Linked DNA regions of Homo sapiens: region 1 is linked to region 2. Evidence: fine-mapped expression QTL. A gene starts in region 2. The other region holds a variant in brackets. All regions are shown on one strand. Distances are from middle to middle.

Region 1 (2,889 bases), 29 kb before region 2:
TTAAAATAACAATAATATTAACCCCTGACCAAAACTACTGGTGTTATGTGTGAATTCCAGACGCTGTATGAGAAAGCACCGTAAAACTTTTTGTACCGTTAGCTGATGTATGTAGCCCACAGTCACGTTCCTCACGCTTACTTGATCTATTATGACTCTTTCACGTAGACCCTTAGAGTTGTAAGCCCTTCAAAGGGCTAAGAATTTCTTTTTCGGCGAGCTCCGCTCTGAAGACACGAGTCTGCCGACGCCCCCGGCCGAATAAAAAAACCTCTTCCTTCTTTAATCCGGTGTCTGAGGAGTTCTGTCTGCGACTCGTCCTGCTACACTATGACCAACTAGCAATTCACCTAGAATCCACGATTTGCCCTCCAGCCCCGCAAAGCTCCGTCCCTTACCGCGGGGAACCTCCCCCCAGCCCCTGCCCACGGCGCCCCCAGCTCCCCCCCTCCCCCGGCCTTGCCCGGCGGCGCCCGCCCCTCCCGGCTCCCCACCGCCGCACCCCCACCCCACCCGAGCCCCGCTCCGCCTCGTCCTCGTGCGCCCGCGGCCCCCTCCACCTGGCGCGGGGCTCACCTGCACGTGCGGTTGTGCGCGGCGGCGAAGGAGGACGGGGCTCGCGCCAGCGTGAAGTTGAGGAAGCCGCGCAGGTCGTGGGCGCGGGTCCACCGGTAGTAGGCGCGCGGCAGGAAGTCGGACGAGAAGGCCAGGAGGAAGGCCTGGGCGCCGGAGGGGTCAGCGCGAGGCGGCCCCCGCTCCGCCCCTGCGCGCCCCCGCTCCGCCCCTGCGCGCCCCCGCTGCCCCCCCGCCCCGCCCCTGCGCGCCCCCGCTCCGCCCCTGCGCGCCCCCGCTGCCCCCCCCGCCCCGCCCCTGCGCGCCCCCGCTGCCCCCCGCCCCTGCCCGCCCCCGCCGCCCCCCCGCCCCGCCCCTACGAGCCCCCGATGCCCCCAGCCCCGCCCCTGCGCGCCCCCGCTGCCCCCGGCCCGCCCCTGCGCGCCCCCGCTGCCCCCCCCGCCCCCGCCCCTGCGCGCCCCCGCCCCGCCCCGCGCTCCCGCCCGGGCCTCACGTTGCTGATGACCGCCAGGTGCGTGAGGCCCGCCAGGATGTGGAACCAGATGCCGATGTCCTGGGCGCGCTCGGCCACCGGGCGCCGGTACTCGCAGACGAACTTGCGCGCGTCCAAGCGGATCTCCACCCAGTTGTTGAGCAGGGCGAAGAGCGGCGCGAGCGGACAGGCGGCCACGAAGATGGTGACGAAGCCGAACTGCAGCACTGCGGGGAGGGG[G/A]TCACGGCCGGGCTCTCCGCCACCGTCCGCCCTCAGCCCTCGGAACGCGCCCCCCGCGGAGGACCGGCCAGTCCACGTGGTGCCGCCACCCCATCGCGGCTCATTCCGCCCCCACCTCCTGGTCTCCCTCGTCCTGGACCGCGCAGCGCCAGGGCCGCCTCTCCTGACCGGCCTCAGGCCGGCTGTCCTGCCCTGCGCTCCGTGCTTCTGGCTGGTCACGGGCCTTCTCCGGCTCGGTGAGCTCAGGAACTAACTCAGGGCAGGCGTTGGGGCAGAAACCTGCTCCTGATTTTACAACCAGCTTCTCCAGTCACCCCACAGGGGAGCTGTTAGGAGAGGGCTCTTTGGAAGGGGCTTCTGGGTCTTCGCCGAGAATTACTAGTGAGATCATTGGGGTCCAGGGTTCAGTGGAGGAGGGTCAGGGCGTCCACTCCTCGCCCTGGGAACTGGCCTGCTCCCTTTCCACAGATGCCGCGGCTACGCTGGGGAGCTCCGGGGCCTGCCGGCTCACATGCCCGCTTGCTAGGTTAAGAGCTGCCTGCCGGGCACAGTTTCTCACGCCTGTAATCCCCAGCACTTTGGGAGGCTGAGGCAGGTGGATCACCTGAGGTCAGGAGTTCGAGACCAGCCTGGCCAACACGGTGAAACTCCGCCTCTACTAAAAATACAAAATTAGCCGGGCGTGGTGGTGGGCGCCTGTAATCCCAGCTACTCGGGAGGCTGAGGCAGGAGAATTGCTTGAACCTGGGAGGTGGAGGTTGGAGTGAGCCGAGATGGCGCCACTGCACTCCAGCCTGGGCGACAGAGGGAGACTCCGTCTCAAAAAACAAAACAAAAACAAACAAACAAACTGCCTGATGATTCCTTCTCCCTTTTGTCAGCTCAGAGTCAGACCCTGCACTGCAGGGACGGCACAGGTGATACAGACCCACCCTCCAGAGTGCACCACCCGTGCAGGCAGTGAGCCCCTGGCACTGGCCACCACCTGGTAAGGTGACAGTGGTAGGTCTGCAAATAGCGTGGGCATTGAGATTTCTGGGAACATTGGCTCTCCAGGCCGCTGCCTCCCACTGTGGCTTCACCCTTGGAGGACTTCTGTCAGCCCCCAGGGCCTGCTCTCCTAATTCTTCCCTTGCTCTGGCCCATGCTTTCTAGGTCCAGGGACCCCAGGGGAGCTCTGCAACGGCCGCGGGGGCCTCCTCCCCGTGCCGGTGCCCCTCTGTCCTCAGCCAACCCTCTTGGGCACTCTCAGGGGAAAAGAATTCCTTTCTGGATTCTCCACAGGCCCGACCCTCTGTTCCCACCCCACCCCCACAGCACATTTCAGGGCAGATGCAGACACAGGAATGTCAGGCTGGGAGGCCCTTGAGCAGAGTGGCCACCCATCCCTGCCCACGGCGCCAGCCATTGCCGCAGCTGCTAACGGGCTCCTACCCATTTCCAGGTACTCGTCAAACAGACCCTCACAGGGCACAAGCTCATAGTCGTCCTCCCAGGGCCCCTGGCTAGCCCCTGCAGAAGCTCCCGCCTTCCTCTTCTTGGAGCGAAGCCGGAACTTCTGCCACCAGCCCTTTAGCTTCCTGGGGACGGGAATACAGGAAAAT
Region 2 (2,889 bases):
GCCAGGCCAGGAGAGCGGTGATCTGACTGTGTGTGTTGAGGACTGGGTGGCGAGGGCTTGGGGGTTGCCGGGGGATGCAGGAGAAACACGGTGATGCCCATCCACCCCCAGAGGCTCTGGGCCCAGGGTGGGGGCATAGACCCAGGCAGGGGAGGACCTCTCAAGTCGCACCACAGTCTCCTGGGTGCTGTTACCTCCGAGGCGTGGGCTGTGCTCCCGTAAGAGCCCCTCTTCTCTGCCTCAGGGGGGCTCACATCGATCAGGACGGTGCTGTCCTCTTCCTGGGCCCGTCGCCGCAGCATCCTGCTCCTGCACCCAGCAAGGCCGGGTGGGGATGGGGGTCAGAGAGGGGATGGGTGAGACCCGTTCCTGGGGCCACCACACTGCCTGCAGTGAGCTCACTTTACAGACTCGACTCGGAGTAGAATGGGGCTGGGCTGGCTCGGCAGACTCTCCTGGCCATGAGCACATGGAGAACCCCCTAGCCAGCCACGAGCTCCAGGAAGAAACCAGTGCCGGGGCGGGAGCGTCTGGCAGGCCTGGCACAGCAGGCGTCTGTCTGTCCATCCAGTGAGTGCCCGTGTCCCCCAGCCCTGAATGCCGTCCACTCTGCCTGGGTACTCAGTGGAGCCTGAGAAGGCCCAGAAAGGTGGGCCTGGAGTACAGACACCTCTCCCTCTCTTATCCGTAGGGTGGAGCCATGTGAGCCAGGGACAGGAAACCCCTCAAGTCGCCTGCCTTCGCTCATGGCCTGAGGACCCAGTGCCAGGACCCATAGGCCCTGAGCTCCCCAGCAAGGCGGGCCTGATGGAGCCCGGCCTCACAACTCTTGGGGGTCCCAGCTTCCTCCCGCACCTTCGCCCCGGGGGTCTCTCTCTGTGGGAGGACAGGTGCCGTGGCTCCTAGTCTTGGGCTGGCAAAACGGGGCCAGGAGCACGACATCTGTGGCCCTGGAAGGAGAGGGTTCGAGCTGGGGCTGGCATTTGGAGCTGCGACGATGACCGGAGGGTGTGACCATGGAGGCGCCGCAGGAGGTCGGAGGGGCAGCCTTCTAGTTCTACCCTTCACTTCACATTAGCGGAGGCCCAGAGGGACAGAGACTGAGCCTGGGCCGCCTGCACCTGCCTAACCCTGAAGCCCGAGCCAGGTCTCAGTGTTAGGACTCGGCCCCGGCCCCAGGCTGGGAGCCTCACTACGGACTGTGGGGTGTTCCTGGAGGAAAGTCCCCGAGGAGTTTCGGCCACCCAGCAGCCCCTCATGCCCCCATCCTTCTGTGGTGGGCAGGCGGGCCCCTCCTCAGAGCTCTCTGCAGAAAGAATGGGGATGCCCCCCACCCCAACGAAGGGACCTGCTCCATGGGGGAGCCCCTGGGCAGGCAGGAAGCCAACCCCAGCTGGGTGTACCCCGTCCAGAGCCGCACTGAGTGTGTGTCCCTCCTCGTGCCCCAAGGGGCTTTGGGGACCAGGGCGGGCCCTGGCACTGCCTCCCCACAGGCCAGGGTGTGTGAAAGTCCCGGTGGGCTGGGGTGCCGCCCTGCCTCCCTAGAGTCCAACGCTCCACCTTCTCCCTGTGGCCCACACGTCTAGGCTGGGTCCCCACCTGGCACAGTGGCTTCCGGAAGAGGTCTCGGAGGTCATGGCCCACCTCTCAGCGTGAGCCTGGTCTCGGCAGTAGAGTCCCGTCCTCACTGCGGGACAGAGGGTGGGGAGGGGTGGCCCTTGGAGCCCCGCCCAGGCAGTGGCAGCCATTCGCATGCCCTCACCTTGCCTGCAAGTGGGCCAGGAAGCAGGCAGGGGAGGTGCCCAGCACAGCTGGCCAGGGCAAGGCTTCCCGGCTCCTGGAGCAGGATCTATCTTTGTTTAAATAGGGGGTGTGGGGCTCAGAGCTGCAGACAGAGGCAGCCCACTTGGCTGGGCTTTCACACACCCGCATGCAAATGCTGCCGTCCTCCTGGGAACCTTATTTGCTTAGAGATTTCAGGGCTGGCATCAGCTGTCATAGTTGCTGCCTTGGAGGGTCTCGAGGAGGTGGGATTCCACAGGAACAGCCACAAGTGCCACCTCTGCTGGAAGCCTTGCCAGGCAGACCTCGTAAGCTCTGTTTATGTGGGGGGAAACTGAGGCTCCTTGAGGTTACGTAGCATGTGCTGAGTGGTGGGCCAGGGTTTCACCCGGGGGCTGGGGAGATTGGGAGACCCAGATCACACTGCTGGCTCTGCTAATGCCTGAGGGGTGACCTCAGGCACATCCCATGCTCAGGGCCCCATCTGCAAAAGGACAGGAGGGGTCCTAGCCTTCCTCCCATCCTTTCCGCCCTCCTCCTCGTCCTCATTCTCCTCCTAGCCCTCCTCTTTCTCCTCCTAGCCCTCCTCCCCCTCCTCCTTTCTCCCCCTCCTCCTATCCTTTCTCCCCACCTTCCCTCTCCTCCTTCTCCTCCTATTGTTTCTCCCCCCTACTCCTCCCTCTCCTTCTCCTCCTATCCGTTCTCCCCTCTCCCTCTCCTCCTATCATTTCTCCCCCCAACTCCTCCTCCTCCTCCTCTTTCTCCCCACTCCCCCTCCTCCTATCGTTTCTCCCCCTCCCCCCCACTTCTCCCTCTCCTCTTCCTTCTCCTCCTTTCTCCCCACTCCCCTCCTCCTGTTTCTCCCCCTCCCCCCACTTCTCCCTCTCCTCCTCCTTCTCCTCCTATCCTTTCTCCCCGCCCCTCCTCTTCCCCTCTCCCTCCCCCTCCCCCTTTCCTCCTTGGTGCCTGGCAGTGTCTGAGAACCTACCACCCGTGCTCCTCGCCCTCCATGCACAACTGCACTGGGGAGCCCCAAGCTCAGCTTGCTGTTCCAGGTGCCCCCTTCTGCCTGTTGAAATCCCTCCAGGCGGACCCTCATCCTGGCTG

What was found. PIP is the estimated chance that this variant, and not a neighbour inherited with it, causes the effect.
Region 1: its variant is fine-mapped to the expression of ANO7 in cerebral cortex (GTEx, PIP above 0.99). The same link has a PIP of 0.9 or more in anterior cingulate cortex, cerebellar hemisphere, left ventricle and nucleus accumbens.

What each region holds. Positions count from the first base shown.
Region 1 is chr2:241,216,069-241,218,957 of GRCh38, reverse strand. ANO7 (anoctamin 7) reads right to left here. Exons shown (of 25, transcript NM_001370694.2): 19 at 2,720-2,865; 20 at 1,067-1,272; 21 at 577-719. Among named protein-coding and RNA genes, the nearest start is that of ANO7, 29 kb to the right of the region's middle. RefSeq lists enhancers at 1-21, 2,129-2,660 and a silencer at 1,365-1,494. The variant G/A (reference allele first, on the strand shown) is at 1,286.
Region 2 is chr2:241,187,477-241,190,365 of GRCh38, reverse strand. ANO7 (anoctamin 7) reads right to left here and starts at 1,689. Exons shown (of 25, transcript NM_001370694.2): 1 at 1,600-1,689; 2 at 195-309. The coding sequence starts at 302. LOC105373971 (a long non-coding RNA gene) reads left to right here and starts at 1,944. Exons shown (of 3, transcript XR_924064.3): 1 at 1,944-2,090. RefSeq lists enhancers at 1-117, 1,051-1,734, 1,735-2,419.